Regions from separate parts of the Homo sapiens genome. Here region 1 is linked to region 2. The links come from fine-mapping of genetic effects on gene expression. A gene starts in region 2. The other region holds a variant in brackets. All regions are shown on one strand. Distances are from middle to middle.

Region 1 (10,464 bases), 860 kb before region 2:
GAGGACCTTCTCCCGACCGTGATGCGCCTCAGCCCTACTTCCCTTGTCCTTTCCTATCATAAAATCTTCTTTCATAGAAATGGTCATTTCTGTTCATATCTGTGGACTGTAAATAACAAGGAAGTCATTTTTGAGGTGAAAACTGCACTTAGACTCATTCCAATTTTGATGGAAACTTTTAGCTGGTGGATGGCATTTTGTTTTGTCTTAGTTTTGCAAGGAGTTATCTTAATTTAGGGAGATGAAACTAGTCTGTGATCCGAGGTCTCACTTCCATACATTTCTCTCGGGCAGTGTGGCTGCCTGAATCATGCCTGGATGCCACAGGTGCTTAGCCAGCTGGTCCTGTCGTAACTGTCACTGGTAGCTCAGGGAGTGCAGAGGTGCCAGCAGACACTATGAAATTGGCCTCGTAAAGCATCAGTTATGTTGTGATGGTGGCAAAGCTGCAGGCGAGATGGGAAGTGCAGCCACTGAGAACTCACAGTAGAGCGTGTGTAACGTAAAAAGATGAAACCCATTGTACACAGCTGTGTACTGCCTCCTTGAAGTCAAATTTCCCCCATTACCAAGGAAAAGTTTTTTCTGAAGGGGGCTGCTTGACAGGATGACATCTGGTGATATCATTTATTCCTTTGGAAATCAATCTGTGGAAGTGAGTTTCCACTGACTGATGAGGAGAAAAATGAATTGGCTTCACCCAGCATCCAGCTTCTTATCCTGGGAGAGATAGCTCTTGGTCTGTCATCCACGCAGCTGCCTGGTGCAAGAGCCAAGTTTGTGCAGCCTGCAGAGCACTCTTCCTGAGCTGTGGGCTGCCAGGTCGGGGGGCAGGGGGGGCCTCACTGTGCAGCCTCCTGCCACCCACTGATCATCTGGGGAGACTGGCCTATCCTGTCAGGAGACGCAGTTGCCCAGACGTTTTCAAGGGCCTAAGATGTAGGCAGTTGATCCACAGATTTTTGGAGAGTCCTTGAGTTGGAGATTACAGGTGACCTCAGAGGAGGGAGTGAGAACATCTGGGTCATGGGTTTCTACTAGGAGTCCACAGTGAAAACAAGAAGAGGAATTTACGACAAGACAGTCCAGCAACTTCCTTTCTAACTTCTCCTTTCACATATGCTGGATACTCCAAGACTTTGCATTTACATGGACATCACAGATCCACTTTGAGAGAAGTAGGGTAAAAAGAAATAAATACATAGTGCTTTAGGTGTATTTCTATACATCTTAATTGATATGGGATTACATTTTCACTTGTGTTTACTGTACAGACTCTAGACAGATCCTGCTCTTTTGCAGGTAAAACAAATATTTCTTAAAACCTAGAAAGACCCAAAACAATTTAACAGAAACATTTTGGACCATTTTGGACCTTGGCAGTTAGGCCCCAGTGCAGCAGCGGCAACCATAAACCTCTCCATAGGTGCTGAACCCAGGTGATCCCTGGCACCGGCAGCCTTATGTCAGGGCTCTCTTATCGCTGGTTTTTATTTCTCCTAATAAAAGTGATTAAAAGATTCATCTTTTAAAGAAAGCAAGGACACAGAGGTGGATTCTCCCTGACGCTAGCACAGCTCATGCCCAAGCCACTCCTGCAGGGCTCTGGTCTAAGTGCAAAAGCTGGAAAAGCTGCAGGTCCCGCAAGACACAGAGCAACCCTGCAAGCCAGGTCACCTTCCCTCTTCTCTGCTGTCCGACTGGCCCTCCACCATGTGACATTCAAAAGCTCAAGTTACTTAACCTCTCAAAACTCAGCATCCTTTTCTGTACAGTGGGGAAGATACTGGACTGTTGTGAGGATTAAGTGAGGAGAGTGGCCCAATGAGGTTGACAGTTATTACTGTCATTGTCATTATTTGCCTTCTCACAGGCAGGCGTGCCACAGTCATTTTACTGAAGCTGCTTCAGTGGGTCCTGAATTAGGCCCTGTCCTTTGGGAGAGACAGTCCTGGTTCAACACACAGCTCCCTGCCCAGGGCAGCTTGGGAGTGTGGGCCAGTTTCGCCTTTAGAACCACAATTCTCTGATATGTGCAATGAGAGAATTAATTATAGACTCAAAGGATTGCATGCAGACACACACAGATACAAACACATACACACAACACACAGAGTTACACACAGACATGCTCACAATACACAGAAATACACACAGACACACGCACACAGCACACAGAGATACACACAGACACACACACACACACACACAGACATACGCACAGATGGGCACACACAGAGACACACTCACAGAGACACACAGATACACACAGGCACACACACAGAGAGACATACACACAGCCCACAGGGATACACACAGACACACAGAGACATACCTACAACACACAGAGATACACACAGTCACACACAGAGAGACATACATACAATACACAGAGATACACACAGAGACACAGATACAGACACAGACAGACATACACACAGACACGGGCACACACAGAGACACACAGACACACACAGGCACACACGTGCAGATAAGGTAATATTAGCTAGTTCAGGAGGAGAAAGAGATAAAGATAAAGTAATATTAGCTAGTTCAGGAGGAGTGAAAGAAGCCTTGTTTTTCTCCACTTTTTATAGAAGAGAAAGTGAAGATTCGATTTGAGGTGAGTTCAGCACAAAAGCGTATCCCAGGCCCTCTGGCTCCAACTGCAGCCCTTTCTACCTCATTCCCAGACCCCACCTAAGCCTTTTCTCTTCAAAATCTTCTCAGGCACACTGATACACATACCTCAGATTTTTAATTCTCCGGTTGTGTTCACCAGGTGCTTGGTCATGATTAAGAATTCCGTGATGTGTACCCCATGTGTTTAAATTTGCTGCTGAGTTAACTTTGTGGCGGCCTGTGGACTAGACCTCTGCACATGCAATGCAGAACGGCAGGGCCAGATTTGAAATCCTGCTATCTTTTCGGCTGCCTTGTAAAAATAACATCAGGCGATGGGGATACGATGCCAGAGGTCACCTGTGATAAGTTCTGTTTATGGCCATTTTACTTCTAGGAAGACAGGAAGTGTCAGGATCTCAGGGATCTAGGAAGCCAAAATGTTTTTCCACTCTGAAATAAAGTGACTGACCAGGAGTTCCCGGCCACGCAGCCCTGTGGGAACTGCCGCACGGCCACTTTTATGAAGTGGACACGTGTTGGTCCCACTGAAAAGAAACTCCCCACCCATGGCTCCCTCACGCTGCAGCAGAGGCCCTGCCACAGCACCTGTCAGCCCCTGCCAGCTTGCAGGGGCGCAGGCGCAGAGCGGTTTGTGCCCTTGCTGGAGCCAGGGAAGGGCACAGGGTCCCTCCTGGAGTCATGGGAGGTGCAGCCGAGGTTCTATATTAAAATACAGAGGCTAGCACATGTGCTTGGGGAATGCAGCTACAGTAGTGGAATGAAAGTGCTGTCCGTTCCTTACCCCCCCAGCTCCTCACCTGTCCTCCACACGCATATCCCTGGCTCCCTTTCCCTAGTAAGGAGACTGAATTGAAATTGTGGCTTGCCCGAGGCTGCATACCTGTGCTCTTTCTGAAGCCCAAGTCACTGGCTCTAGAATTCTAACCTGTGAGGAAGCCACTGAGGATGTTTGTCAAAATACATATTTCTGTGCCTTGCCCCAGTTCCACGGCCCAGGAATCTGCAGTTTTCACAAGCACCCCCAGGTGATTCTGGTGGTGTCTTTGCACTTCTTCAAGGCAGTACTGCCTGGAACGCAGAATCCCAGCCTCCTCTATCCTCCTTGCCTAATGGCCTGGATGCTCTCAGATCTACAGGGGAAGGGAAGGTCACACAGTCATCGCAATAGTAACCTCAGCTGATAAATCCTCCCCCATAAAACTTATTCCCCAGTGTTTTTTAATAGGAAACAATAAAACTGTAACCAGCCCAAATATCCATCAAAGAGAAAATGGAGAAGTAAATCATCGCACATTCACCTGGACCAGATCTATTGTAAAGCCAATAATACTGAAGCCCCTTCCAAGGCCCTGGGAGTCCTAACAGTGCACTGGCAGTGTCTATAATTTATATTATGAAATTTGCATAAGGAAAACATTTTGTCTCATTTGTGCAATTTCTCCTTCTAAATATACGTGTCACTTTGTACCTGATTTCTATAAGACCCAGGACCTACAAACCCTGTGTCTGCCCCTGCAGCCACCCAGGGAAGGACTGCACAGCAGCAAGACAGATTGCCATGGAGCATGTTGTGCCCAACTAGGGACAGCGCAGATAGATTCTGTAATTTGCCTAACAATGTCTATAGGATGATCCCATTTGTCAAAAAAAAAAAAGAACTGGGCTTTATTGATGTCACCTAAATGCACCTAAACTTCTTTTTTGCCCCATGCTCTTCTGTACTCTTGATCTTTCCCCAAATTTTTAAAAACATGACACTCATTCCCTTATTTTTCCTACTTAGAAAAGTGTAGATGGTTTTATCATAGGAAGTTCAAAAAAATTAAAATATAATGAAAAATACTCAAATAGTGCCTCACAACAGTAACTACTGCTAACATAAATAAAATCCATATTTCCTCTCATACAGACCCCAGAGTTGCTTTGCCTGACAGTGTAGTTGATGGAGAAAATAATCTTTATCCTTAGCCTCCATCTGGTTGCAGACCATAAAGACAGGGAAAAAATGAGGGTGTTGGTAGCTTCGTTAGAAACTGAAAGCTCACTGATTTTTTCAAAACCTAAATAGCCTGTGTTTCTCCAAATAACTAATTTGCAGCCTTCGGCAGCCAGGACTGGCAGGGAT[G/A]GGGCTAGGGGGACTGGGGAGAACTGCTCTCTCCTGAGGGTGGTCTGACCCGACAGCACGCATGACCTTCCCACAGTCAGGAACTGCTCAGAGACGTGATGGCAACTCCATAGAATGAAATACTCTTCAGCCAGTAAAATGTATTTTTGGATAAATATTTGCTTTAAAAAACTTTACTATATGTTGTTAAATGAAAAAAAAACCTTAAGGCATCAGAAATTATGTGCAGTAAAATCTCACTTTTGTAAATAAATATACCTGTTTACTACGTATGCATAAAAAGAATCCTGAGAAATATAAGTACTGTATGCATATTGTTGTTAAGTATTTTTTCTGTTTGCTTATCTATAATTCTAATTTTGCTTCAAAGAACAAGTTACTCCGGCAATATAAAAATAAAATAACTAATTTGTCTTGTCATCAAACAGATAGTAAGAACAGGCAAACCTGGCCCTCCACACTGCCAGCCTTTTGTGATTCAAGGCTTCAGTTTCCTCCACTTGTTAAAAAGATTCAACAAAGTAGTTGAAATAGTATGTGAACCAGTAAACCCTAAAAGGTGTCCAGTGTTGTCTGTGAGCTAATTAAGTGATTTGATTCTGACTCCCCGAGTCTTCTGATTTCGAAGCAGTGGGGAGTCAGACAGGAGCCTCAGGTGGCCTCTCCTGAGAGGCCCTGGAAAGTGATGAGAACCTGGCCTCTGGCAGCTCTTCATAAACGTCCATGTTTTCCCTCTACTCTCTCACTCTTTTCCCAGGGCCTCAAACAGAAGATGAAAATCAATTTCTAAAACAGCCCTCTGTGTGCTCTCTCGTATCTCTCCTTTTCACACATCGTGGTGGTGGCTTTCTCTGTGTTCCTCTGTTGATTCAGTCTCTGGAATTAACGGATCAGGATTCCATGCCCAGAATGCTACAAAGACTGTGCTTGAGTTCTCCCACATCTCACTCAATTACACAGAAGTTTCAGATTATGTAACAGATGCTGTGCTGGGTTAGGCAGAGCCATCTGACTTGTTTTGCTTTATTTTAGACCATGAGATGGGTGAGTTTTTCTTTTTAATGCCACATTCTTTTAAGAATTAAAAACCTCCACTTGGCTGTCAGCATTGGAAATCAGAGTGATGGTGCAAGCCCTGATGAGGACAATGTCCTTGTCTATGAAAAGGTGAAATCATTGCTTGAAATCGCTAAGCAGGACATGCAGTCCCAGATGGAGGGGGGAATTCGGGAGCTGGTTGGAAAAGAGTATTTGGCACTTTGCAGCCTTGAGAGGTGCAGAAGAGACACCGAGGGGTTCACCACCAGAGCCACCATTGTCAGAGAGGCGTCCAGCTGTGTCCACCTGGGACTCTGCCTTCAGGGCTTCTTGCCTGGCTGGGAGCTGCACAGGCAGACTCCTGGGACGGTGTGCCGACAGCTCTGGGCACCCCCTTCTAGGATCTGATTCCTGAGGAATCACAATGTGGATTTCACAATCACTTCCAGTGTCTTTTGCCAACCTCTGTGAACAGATGTGCAATTAAAAAAAAAAAAAGAAAGGGGCCCAATTCTCAACACTGTAAGTGGAAACTTTTTAATGGAAAAGGATAGGCTAATGAATTGAATTTGAAATCTGAGACAGAACCGATGCATCAAATGTGCTGGTGTTTACAGATAATACAAGGGGGGCTGCATCTTATGGTTTCAATCCTTTTTTAAATTTTTGTTCTGAGAGACCCAGCCAGCAGACTGCCGCCAGTCTTGTCAGAGATGTCAGTGGTGGCCACTCTGAATGGAAAGCAGCATCTCTCAGCATCTCTGAGGCACTGCTCCTCAGCGGAGACTGTGGTGGCTTTGCCTTTCAGCACGCATCCTTTCTACGATGCCTGACAGTGCCCAGGGAATGGGCAGAGCTGGGAGCTCTGAAGCCCTTTCACCTAAACCACCCTGGGTCACCTGACCTAGTTTTCCTCCCAATTTTAATTATGTCAGGCACTTCACAAAGGCCTCCTTGGGGACACCATGAGCTCACTGTCATCAGATTGCTCCAATCACAGCTGTGGCTTGCACACAACCGCCATCTCTGCCCCAGCAGATGCTGTGTGTAAACAGTTGTATTAATTACATCTCAAAAACATGGTTCTTGCCAGATCCTCAGGATTTGGGTGCAGCCTCTGAGGTGGGTGGGAGGCCCTCGAGGGAGAAATGTCTGCAGGAAATTCTTCCCCTACGAGAGGTCTGTTTTCTAAGTTATCTAAGAGCTACTGCAGCTGTTTACTGCAGAGTGACCCTGCTCAAAGCTGTGGTCACCCAAGGCTTTGAAAGGGGACCTCCACTTCCGCCCTGGGTGGAGCACCGTGCTGGAGACCCACGCCTGCCAAGGCCTCATTGTCATCTCCACACGCCGTCCTTGGGGTGGGCCACTCCTGGGACACGCAGACAGGAAGCCGGCCACCTGAGCCACTCGGAGGCTCTATCCAGAGTCAGCTGCCAAGCCTCACGTCACACATCACTGTTAGTCTTGGAGGGCTGGCGGGGCCCTGAAGTCAATTGAACACTTGGATGACAGGGAACTTGCCACTGCCAGAGGCAATATGCTCCATTTTTTTGACAGTTCCAACAATTTTTCTTTAAACTGTCATAAAAAATTGCTGCTGTGAATACCAGTGTCGGCGTCCCTGCCTCACCTTTACCTGGTGCTTTTCCACCACACAAAACTGTTTCTCCTCGTGCTGGCCTTGGGCTTGCAGACAGCTGATTCTTCTCCTCCCGCGGCTGAGCAGCCTCCTCCGAGCAACCCTCTGACAACTCTGCTCCTTCTGACAACCTCTGCAAGGGCTGCCAGATGTGAACAAGGGGCCCGGGCAGAAGGTATCCAGGAAGACTGGAAACTCGAGGAAGCCTGCCCTGTCCTGTCCACCAGACTTTACGCTTGCGTCACTGGGCTTTGGGACCTAAGTCCTCGTCATTTGTTCCTTTTGCAGTTCCTACTGTTCTCAGCACTTCCTTCCAGCTTACTGAGGTACACTCAGATGTGATATGCCATCGGTACAGACACAGTTCTGCTCCAGCATTTCCCCGTGTTCTTTCTGTCGCTCTATTTACTGAATTACCGTGAGGATGTGGAGCGAGGCTGAGTTCTGTATTTTAACACCATTTTAATTCTCACCTACTGAGAAATCCATCCTCTTATCACTGTGCTTTTTTTAACCTGTCACGAATCCATGAAATCCTATCAGCCAGCCTGCATACTTCCTTTTAAGGTGCAGTTGAATCAGGAGAAACTTGCCGCACATGCTGCGTCCGGGCACAGCATTGGCTGAGGCTGCTGCCCTGACCTGTCCGCTTTGTAGTACTGCCCAGCTATGAAACAGGTTAGCCACACATGACCTGCATTTAGGAGTAACAAGTCTGTCTGTACATGCACATACAGCAACTTTTTTAAACTGTCTATATTTTTTCCTGAGATAGGTATTTATAATATCTCCATCTTCTTTCCCATTTTGAAACTTAGAACAAGTTTGCCTGTCAACAGTTCTCCACAGCATACTGTGTATTCTAGGATTTTCTAAGGTTGAGCAACGGAGGTTCAGCAATTTTGACTTAATTTCTTCCCATCCCTTTTCCACGCAGCCCAGAAGCCTTGGATCACGTGGTGAGGGGAAGAGGTTGTGCTATGTCGGGAAACTCTGTATCGAAGCTCGGCTCAGATCATGACATTCTCTTGACTAAAACCCTCAGTTTCCATCAAACTTGTCACTCTGGCATTAAAGCCTGTCACTGTGTGGCTCTGAAAACCTCTCTGAACGTGTTCCCTGCCTCTGCCCTGCAGGTCCCTGTGCTCCACAGAAGCCCACTTATGTGACCCACCCCCACTCATCACCACCTTCCCTCACCCAGAGCCTCAGCTCCCCACTCCCACCTGTAAGACCCCTACTGGAAAGATTCCCACCTGCCCCTCAAGATTAATCTCCAAGGACATTTCCAAATTCCTCTCCCCATCTCTCAGCCAGATGGCTTTGCTCCCTCCAGGAACCCCAGCCACCTTCGACCTCCAGCAGGGCACTCCACTCCACATTCTCCTGGTCTGTCTGGCTCATCTTACCTGAGCCATGCTCTCCAGGTGAAGGACTATGTCTAACTCAACTCTGCTTTAAAAGCAGCTAACACATTGCTCTTTGCATATTGTTCACTCACTAAGTTGAACTGGACTTGGACATGCACACTGAACTGCAGCGTCTGCTGCTTCTTGGTGGCCCAGCTCGTCAAAAGAATAAGATTTCAGCAAAACAATGTAACAATTTTTTTTACCAAAAGTAATGTTAACAATATATGGTTTTCCCCTGATGTTTGCGTCAAAATGCTTTTTGGAAAAAACATTTTTCAACTCTTTAGGGTCAGAATTAAGCAATGAAATTTATATACCACATGTATAATGTGTATGTTTATCTAAGTATCTGTTCATTTATATATCTTAAATAGAAATTTTAAAAATTTTTTTAAAACTCCTGATAAACATTCTCAGGAGGCACACTATGTAACTGTTGGTTGATATACCTAGCTAGATGGTGAAATCAGATTTTGTTTAAAGCATGGAGGAGAGGGAAAAATTAAATCTTGCAGATTCTGCAGTCCTTAACATCTTTGAAAGAGGAACATTTCAGACAATGTAATAAGAAGGCCACGTGCTTTGACTTCTGTAGATTTTAAAAATACTTCTGTATAGTTTCTTCTTCCTTTGAAGAAGTTTGGGGAGTTTGGGAAGATGGAGAAAGATATAAGAATAGACTCCCCATATGGGTCATGAATTATCTTTTTGCATCAGAACTCTTAGTGCAGTTTCAGTATTTTCTTCCTCAGGAGGGTGAGCTGCTTCCGAATGTCCTCCCCTTCTTTGAGGCATCCTCTGTTGGTGAACTTTGAGAGCATCCATTTATGAAGTTGATGACCTTTCCCAGTCTCTGCAAGCCCTTCAGTGTGTGTCCTCTCTGAGCAAATCTGAATTGTGTGCTTAATACATGGAAAGGGATTTGGGAGGGTTGCTTTTTAAACTGATTTCTTAATTAATATTATGGTTTAGTTAACTAGACAGTCTCATTGCAGAAGTGCATAACCATAATATGTCTTCAAATATATCTCCCTTCCTAACACCCTGTAATATACTTTTGTAAAGATACCCTTACAGAATGTGATCCACCATTTATGAACCTGCAGCATTGCATTCAGAGACTAAGTGAAAAGCTGGCAGATTTTCATTTAAAGCACAAGCTAAGGAAGAAAGCTGGTCTAGAAGGAGCTACAGAAGGGTAATGCTTAGGGAGGGAATGATGTGCCTGTGGGTGGTGGTAGTTAAATCTAACCAAAGAATGATGTCGTGGGTGTTTGGATATTGGATGGTCCACATTGGGCCACATTCTTTCAAACATAAGAGTCTGTAGAAATATGACCTGTAAAAGACTCTTAAATATTCTGGAAACTGTTTCTTCCTTGTCACATCCTTATATATACTTGAACCTATGCCTACCAGACATGACATGTGACTATTCATACAGATTTCATCATCTCTGGTTTAAGAATAAAGGATGCTGCATAGAAGGCTCACATCTTTTAATTCACAAGACTGAAACTGTTCTGAAATGACATTGTTTCTAAAAATTCATTACTTGCATTATATTCATTTTTATTTTTCCATGCCAGAAGGGTAGAAGTTCC
Region 2 (9,003 bases):
ACCCCGCTGCACTCCAGCCGGGGCAACAGAGCGAGACTCTGTCTCAAAAAAAAAAAGAAAAGAAAAGTCAAATCAGTGATAGTAAGAATACGCTTCAGAAGTTCTCTAAGAATGTAGAGGAAAAGGATAAAGAAATGAAAGTAACGAGAATGATAGTTCTGTGAGACTGAATTTTAAAACTCCAATATAAATATAATACATTTTTCAGAATAGAGTAGAACAAAAACAACAAACTAATGAAAAAAAGAAATAGAAAACATTTTTTCTTGACCTTTAGAAAAATCATGTTCTATAAAAAGAGATCCTCACATAGACATATCCTGGCAAAATATGTATTGAAATGCTGGAAAACTTCAAACCATTCCAGGATCTGAGAAAAGTACTTAGAACTGAATGAAAATCAGACTGACCCTGGCTTTTTCTCTGTGATAGAAAGTTCAAGAAAACACCAGAATACCATCTACACAGTTGAGGGGAAGGGTTAGAAACCCAAGGAGTAACCAGAGATTTTGAAAACACACTTGTGTAGTCTGATATCTGTGAAAATAACATGCTTGGCTGTTTTTGCTTTGAGAGTACATATCACTAATAAGCAGCTTAAAAAAAAAGATCACCTTAGTTCAACCATTGTGGAAGACAGTGTGGCGATTCCTCAAGAATCTAGAACCAGAAATACCATTTGATCCAGCAATCCCATTACTGGGTATGTACTCAAAGGATTATAAATCATTCTACTATAAATACACATGCACACATATGTTTATTGCAGCGCTACTTACAATAGCAAAGACCTGGAACCAACCCAAATGCCCATCAATGATAGACTGGATAAAGAAAATGTGACACATATACACCATGGAATACTATGCAGCCATTAAAAAGAATGAGTTCATGTCCTTTACAGGGACATGGATGAAGCTGGAAACCATCATTCTCAGCAAACTAACACAGGAACAGAAAACCAAACACTGCATGTTCTCACTCAAGTGGGAGTTGAACAATGAGAACACATCGACACAGGGCGAGGAACATCACACACCGGGGCCTGTTGGGGCAAGGGAAGGGAGACCATTAGGACAAATACCTAATGCATATGGGGCTTAAAACATAGATGATGGGTTGATAGGTGCAGCAAACCACCATGGCACATGTATACCTATGTAACAAACCTGCATGTTCTACACATGTATCCCAGAACTTAAAATTAAAAAAAAAATTAAAAATAAAGCATCAGACGTCTCCAAGTGGTGCTCCTAGCATATGGTGACACATGTGTCACCAGCTCTGGGATGGAGTCCAAGCCGTCTCTAAAATATTTTAAAGGTTTAAATATTTAAACATTTATAAATAAGCATCATTTATAAATATGTTAAAATATAAATGATGCTTAAGTACCAATGAAGTATTAAAGTATAAATATAAAATTAAAAGCATGTGAAAATATAAATAGTACCTAAGTACCATCAAAGGATTAAAATATAAATGATGATGGCCAGGCGTGGTGGCTCACGCCTGTAATCCCAGCACTTTGGGAGGCTGAGGCAGGCGGATCATGAGATCAGGAGTTGGAGACCAGCCTGACCAACACGGTGAAACCCCATTTCTACTAAAAATACAAAAGTTAGCCGGGGCGTGGTGGTGCACACATGTAATCCCAGCTACTCAGGAGACTGAGGCAGATTCTCAAGGAGAATCGCTTGAACCTGGGAGGCGGAGGTTGCAGTCAGCCAAGATCGTGCCACTGCACTCCAGTCTGGGTGACAAGAGTGAGACTCCATCTCAAAAAAATAAAAAATAAAATAAAATATAAATGATGTATAAGTACCATTGAAGTATTAAAATATGAATGATACCTAAGTACCATTGAAGCATTAAAATATAAGTGATACCTAAGTATCATTCAAGTATTAAAATAGAAATGATACTTAAGTACCATCGAAGTATTAAAATATAAATTATACCTAAGTACCACTGAAATGTTAACATATAAATGATACTTGTTTATATTTTAACACATACTTTTTCCTGAGAGTCTTTGTATAAAACTTATGCTCCAGGAAGACTTGCTATGTTTATTCTATGGCTTCAAATATCTGAAGCCACACAGCTGTGAAATCAGAGTACCCTCTTTTTCCCCAGTAAAAAGTCCTGAGTGAATGGAACTCCACAACAAAATGATAGTGGAGAAAAGCAATGCAGGCTAAGCAGGCTAATACTAAACACAAAAGCAAGGTCAGCAAAGAAGTGTCTAGCTACAGTTTATATTTCAGAATAAATTTAAAAGCAGGTGTCTCATGAAACAGAGCTGAGAAATTGGGGGCATTTGTGACAGTCACAGGAGCTCATCCACCCTTAAAGAGGCCTGGCCTCCTGCTCTGTAGGGCTGGGCCAAGTCCTTGATACCCTGGAGAGAGCTCACTTCTGCCTCTCTTTGGAGTGTGAGAAACACACTCACCCATTCAAACCCAAAGAATGGACTTAGAGGCATGAAGAACAGTGAAAGTGAGACTTTTTTTTTTTTTTGAGAGTCTGTCTTGATCTGTCACTGAGGCTGGAGTGCAGCAGTGCGATCTCAGCTCATTGCTGAGCTGAGATCACCTCCCAGGTGAATCTCCATCTCCCAGGTTCAAGTGATTTTCCTGCCTCAGCCTCCCGAGTAGCTAGGATTACAGGCATGCGCCACCACACCCGGCTAATTTTTGTATTTTTAGTAGAGATGGGGTTTCACCATGTTGGCCAGGCTGGTCTTGAACTCCTGACCTCAGGTGATCCACCAGCCTCAGCCCCCCAAAATGCTGGGATTATAGGCATGAGCCACCGCACCCGGACAAAAGTAAGACTTTTTAATAATGGTTTTGCAAGATCGGATGTGTGATGGGCAGGCACACCCAGTGCAGTTTCAACAATTTATCCCCTAGAGCACAGGTCCCTCCCCAGTTCCTCACAGGCTGAGTAATATGGGGTTGCAGTCTTCCTGGACATCACCTAAGTTCCATTATCCCCTTATTAGGTTACATCTTGTCCTCTTCCCTACTTGAAGTTTCGATTTCCCAATGGCTAAGCTTTCTTTCCTTTTATGGATTAGACACCCCTGCCACTTTTCTCCCTCCCCTCTGACTTCTGTGAGTTTTATCACTCTTCCCAGATGTCTGTACCCGTGCATCTTGTCACATCCACAAGGGAACTGCCCAGACTTGTCTGTTTTCTGAAAATGGACCACTTAAAAAGTACTTCTTACAGGGTTCTCCACAGCTTTACTAAGCATACACTAGTTGAGGCCAGGAGGTCCTCAGCCACACAGCCTCTGGCCTCCTATCCTTGTGTCCCTTGGCCTCCATCCCACTGGCCTCCAAGGGACAGGTGCCTTTCCCTGCTCTGGGGCAAAGCCCTCCTCCATCCACAGGGTCCACCTCTGTCCTCCCTGGTGGCTCCTTGCCATATTAACGTGTTCAAATTCTACCCCAGTCAGAAAACTGCACCCCTTGAGCCCTGATGCTCCCTTGGCCCCCAAGATTACCAGCTTCAGGGAACCTCCCAGTTTTTGTCCACCTTATGACCTCCAAGCAACCCAGTCCTGAGGGCACTTTCCTCTCTGCCTCTGCAGCCCCGCACTGGCCTGGAAATGCTCCCTTTGGTGGCCAGAGCCCCTACTTCTCCCAGGTTCTCCCCCACCCCCAGGGTCCAGCTTCCTTCCTCCTGCCCTCACCTTGGTTGCAGTTTTCATGGTTATATTTGTGGCTTTTTTCTTTTTCTTTTCTTTTTTTTTTTGAGATGGAGTCTCACTCTGTTGCCCAGGCTGGAGTGCAGAGGCACAATCTCGGCTCACTGCACCCTCCACCTCCCAGGTTCAAGCAATTCTCCCACTTCAGCCTCTCGAGTAGCTGGGATTACAGGCACCCGACAACATGCCTGCCTAATTTTTGTATTTTTGTAGAGATGGGATTTCACCATATTGGCCAGGCTGGTCTCGGACTCCTGACCTCAGGTGATCCGCCCGCCTCGGCCACCCGAAGTGCTGGGATTACAGACGTGAGCCACCGTGCCTGGCTCATTTGTGGCTTTTTAAAAAATCTTCCTGGAGGACACATTTTTCCCTCTATAGCGCCAGCCACCCAGATCCACGCCTTTGCTTAAGTTATTTCCTCAAGACAGGGATGCCCTCCCTTCTTCCCCTGGGACTGATATGTCCTGCCAGCTCCTTGGAGAACTTTCTCCCCATCTATCCTCTAATTCACAGCCACCCCCGGTTACATGCTCTCTTTCCGTGCCTCTTTCGTGTCTCATGAACCTGTCCATTTTGACACTTAACACACTCGGTCCAATCATCATTGTACATTCTGTCCCCACTAGACCCAGACGGCCTTGAGGGTAAGGTACCAAGGACTCCCCATGGCCAGTGCCCACCGGTGCTGAAATGAATGGGAACGATGCAGTCCCAAGACCTCAAGAGAACCTTCCCAGTCCTTTCTCCTTAATTTTTTTTGTGTGTGTATGGTGTTTTTTAATTTTTTCCTCACTTGCTTTCTTTTCTTTTCCTTTCTCTCTTTCTTTCTTTCTCCTGCCTCCCTCCCTTCCTTTCTTTCTCCTTCCTTCCCTCCTTTCTTTCTCCTGCCTCCCTTCCTTCCTCCTTTCTTTCTCCTTCCTTCCTTCCTTTCCCTCCCTTTCTTTCTCTCTCTTTCTCTCTTTCTTTCTTTCGCTACAGGACGTCGTGTGTTTGCCCAGGCTGGAGTGCAGTGGCACGATCATAGTTCACTACAGCCTCCACCTCCTGAACTCAAGCGATCCTTCTGCCTCAGTCTCCAGTGTAGCTGGCATCACAGACGTGCTCCTCCATGCCCGGCTAATTTAAAAATGTTTTTGCACAGTGAGGGCTCGCTATGTTGCCCAGGTTGGTCTCGAACTCCTGGCCTCAAGAGATCTCCGGCCTCAGCCTCCCAAAGTGCTGGGATGACAGGCGTGAGCTATTGCGTCCGGCCCCAGAATGCACTTGTTAAAGCGTTGTGGGGCTTTTTGAAATGACAATATATTCATATACTACAAAATTTAAAAGACATTGGCGGGGTGGGGTGGGGGTAAACCCACTGCCACTGCCCCGCCCCAGGCCCTGGATTCCCCTAGGCACAGTGTTACTCTTTCCTTTTGGAGTTTTCCCTGATCATTGAAGTTATGCCCTTGTCCCTTCTGCACCCGCGCTTCTGGGCACCGAGCTCCTCCCGCTGAAGTGATCGGCTTGCACTGACTGCGCTTGGGCTTCGCGCTTTCCCGCAGCGGCCGGGCCTTGGCGCCTGGACGCCCCGCCGACCCCCGCGGCCGCGCGCCCTGCTCCCCCTGGCGGCCGCGCCCCGCACTGCAGTGGCCGCGTTGGGGCCCGGCCGGGGGAGGGGTCGCGCGGCGGCGGCGTCAGCGGCGGCGCCCGGGCGGTGGGAGCCGAGGCGCCGAGCAAGATGGCGGCGCGAGTGCTGCGCGCCCGCGGAGCGGCCTGGGCCGGCGGCCTCCTGCAGCGGGCGGCCCCCTGCAGCCTCCTGCCCAGGCTCCGGTGAGCAGCGCCGCCCTTCCCGGGAGGTGCCGGGGAGGGGCCGCCGCGAGGCGGAGGGCGCGGGTTTCCCGGCGCCGGTCTCCGCCCCGGCCCTGTCCCCAGCGCGGGTGGCTGCCCGGCCTCGGGGCAGTGGGGCCGGAGCTGGGGTGGGGCCGGAGCTGGGGCGGGGTCGGGGCGTCCTCGGGCTCAAGGTCACGGAGGGGACGGGCCGCTCTGCGGCTCCACCCTCGCCCGGGAAGGCCCCCGAGGCTTGGCCCGGAGGCCACATCCTCCCCGCGGCGCTGGCCCGGCCTGCAGGGCCCTGACCGGCGCGACCCGTGGCCAGGGACAGGGACAGCGCGCGCCTGAGGCCGCAGGCCCCGGACGCCGTCTGCTGGGTCCTCGCCGGAGGCTGTTCCAAGCCTGAGTGGCTGCGTCTGCCGAGGACGTTGGTGACCCTGGTCTCTGAGGTGCCGGGAGTAGGGAATAAAAGAGTAAAGCATTGTCCCGGGCCAGCTCTCCGCGGAGCGTAGGGGAAGTTAGAGCTTGGAGGAGGTCAAATCACTTAACGTCTTGGAGTTGAAATTTAAAGCCGGCCGTGGATCTAAAAGTACTTAGAGTTATCAGCACTAAGTTCAGGCGTGGGGCTCTTGTTTAAACTTTTTTTTTTTTCTAACTTCAGTGGATTGGACGTTTGGTTGTCCAAATTCATCACCTTGATATTTGCATGTGCTGTTTTCCACATTCAAACAGCAAAGCCTATCCTGACTTACCCAGAGTTGCTTTCTCGTATTCATTGCTTTGGGTAGTTTAAATTACCTAAGGAACTGTGTGTTAAACTCGCCATGGGCCAGGGAGGTTTCAGTAACATGGTTTATTATTATTATTATTGTTGTTGTTTATTTATTTATATTTTTGAGACGGAGTTTTGCTCTCGTTGCCCCGGCTGAAGTGCAACGGCACGATCTTGTCTCACTGCAACCTCCGCCTCCCGGGTTCAAGTAATTCTCCTGCCTCATCCTCCCAAGTAGCTGGGATTACAGGCATGCACCACCACACCCGGCTAATTTTTGTATTTTTAGTAGAGACGGGGTTTCACCATGTTGGTCAGGCTGATCTCGAACTCCTGACCTCAGGTGATCCACCTGCCGCGGCCTCCCAAAGTGCAGGGATTACAGTCGTGAATCACCAGGCGCGGCCTGATCTTTTTAAAAAGATGAGTCTGACTTGGGAGAGGGGGCAGAATTAAGGGTAGTGGCCAGCTGAGTGGACCCTGGCACTGAGAGTTGAGAGTTTGCAGAGAGCTGTTCTGCCAAAATGTGAGTGCCTACCACGTGCCAGGCACTGTTGACTGTTGAGAGACATCAGTGAATAAGGCGTCCAAGGCCATCCGGAGCTTACCAGTAATTCAGGAGGGCTGGGGAAGAAGAATTCAGAGCAGTTTAGGACCTGGTAAAGTTTGTGAAGGCTGTGTGCTATTCAAGTGGAAACGCAAACAGACAGTTGGCAGTATGACTCCTCAAAGGAGGTGTCTGGGCTACAGGTAACATTTAGGAGTTGTCAGTATATAGGAATGCTAAATGTTAATAGACACATGGATTTCATTATACTGTTTCGTATTTGATTTACGTTTTTCATAATAAAGCCTGGACGCAGTGACTCACACTTGTAATCCCTGCACTTTGGAAGGTTGCGGCAGGAGGATTGCTTGAGCCCAGGAGTTTGAGACCAGCCTGGGCAACATAGTGGAACTCTGTCCCTAATAATAAATAAGTACATAAATAAAAATTTGTATAATGAAACTTTTTTTAAACCATAGGAAGCCGGGTGCAGTGGCTCAGGCTGTAATCCCAGCACTTTGGGAGGCCGAGCTGGGCTGATCGCTTGAGCTCAGGAGTTCGAGACCATCCCAGGCAACATGACAAAACACATCTCTACAAAAAATACAAAAATTAGCCCGGCATGGTGGCACACGCCTGTAGTCCCAGCTACTTGGTAGGCTGAGGTGGGAGTATGGCTTGAACCTGGGAGGTGGAGGTTGCAGTGAGCCGAGATCATGCCACTGCGTTCCAGCCTAGGTGACAGAGCCAGACCCTGTCTCCAAAATAAAACAAACAAAAAAATATAGGAATGTGTGAGATTGCTTGAGGCGAGAGTGTGGAGAGAGAAGGGGCTGCAAAGCAAGTCCTGGGATGTGCAGCGTATATAGGCTGAATGTAGGAGGGGGAGCTGGCAAGCTCATTGTTATGTGGCAGTGGCCAGGAGGAGGGAGGGAGTGCCATCCGCTGCCAAAGTGTTAGGTAAAATGACAGAAGAAAACAGGATTTGCTGAATCAGTTTCAGCAAGGGAGAAGGGCGTCCTCCCGGGAGCCTCATCCCTGCCTGTACATTAGCCAGCGTATTTCACTTAGTGCTGCTCAGCAGCAAGCTTGGAATTCCCAGCCGCTTCCTGGACATTGCATAAGTGTCTCACAGGTGCTTAAAACACTGCTGTACCCAGGATTTAACTCCTCTTCCTTCTGTGAAGCCTGCTTTTCTTTGGTTGTTCTTCTCCAGTCATGAAACATTTTCCATGTGGTGGCCCAGGCCAGACACCAGATGGTCTTCCCCAAGCCCATCCCTCTTTTTCCCGCCATCTATCATTTACCAAATCTGTCAGTTCTGCCTCTAGTATGTCTTGAATCCACCCTCTCCATCTTCACTGCCCTAGCTCAACCCTCAGCAATACTCGTCTGGATTCCTACGAAGAGTGTGGGCTCGAACCTGTTAGTGAAGGGGATGACTAAAGAATTTTTTTTTTTCCTTGGAGATAGTCTTGCCCTGTTGCCCAGGCTGGAGTTTAATGGCATGACCACGGCTCACTGCAGCCTTGACCTTCCGGACTTAAGGGATCTTCCCACCTCAGCCTCCCAAGTAGCTGGGACTACAGGCCCACACCACCATGCCCAGCTATTATTTATTTATTTATTTATTTATTTATTTATTTGAGACAGAGTGTCACTCTGTTGCCCAGGCTGGAGTTCAGTGGCGTGATCTCGGCTCCCTGCAACCTCCACCTCCTGGGTTCAAGCAGTTCTCCTGTCTCAGCTACCTGAACAGCTGGGACTTACAGGCGTGCACCACCACGCCTGGATAATTTTTGTATTTTTAGTAGAGATGGGGTTTCTCCATGTTGCCCAGGCTGGTCTCAAACTCCTGGCCTCAAGTGATCCTCCCACCACGGCCTCCCAAAGTGCTGGCATTACAGGGATGAATCACCACACCCGGCTGCTAATTTTTAATTTTTTTGTAGAGAGGGGGGTCTTGCTATGTTCCCCAGGCTAGTCTCAAACTCCTGGCCTCAAGCAGTCCTCCCACCCTCCGCCTCCCAAAGTTCTAGGATTATAGGTGTGAGCCATTGTGCCCAGCCACACGTCTAAAGAATTCTAAGCGGACATTTTCCTAGTAGAAAGATCTCTATGACACAAACCTTGACTGGTTCCTAATCC

The links.
Region 1: its variant is fine-mapped to the expression of NIPSNAP2 in lymphoblastoid cells (GTEx, PIP 0.96).

The regions. Positions count from the first base shown.
Region 1 is chr7:55,093,532-55,103,995 of GRCh38, forward strand. The region is part of intron 1 of EGFR (epidermal growth factor receptor); the gene reads left to right. Among named protein-coding and RNA genes, the nearest start is that of EGFR, 80 kb to the left of the region's middle. The variant G/A (reference allele first, on the strand shown) is at 4,772.
Region 2 is chr7:55,959,166-55,968,168 of GRCh38, forward strand. It overlaps NIPSNAP2 (nipsnap homolog 2), which reads left to right and starts at 5,420. Exons shown (of 10, transcript NM_001483.3): 1 at 5,420-5,536. The coding sequence starts at 5,445. RefSeq lists enhancers at 5,080-5,159, 5,729-6,462 and silencers at 5,310-5,419, 5,480-5,959.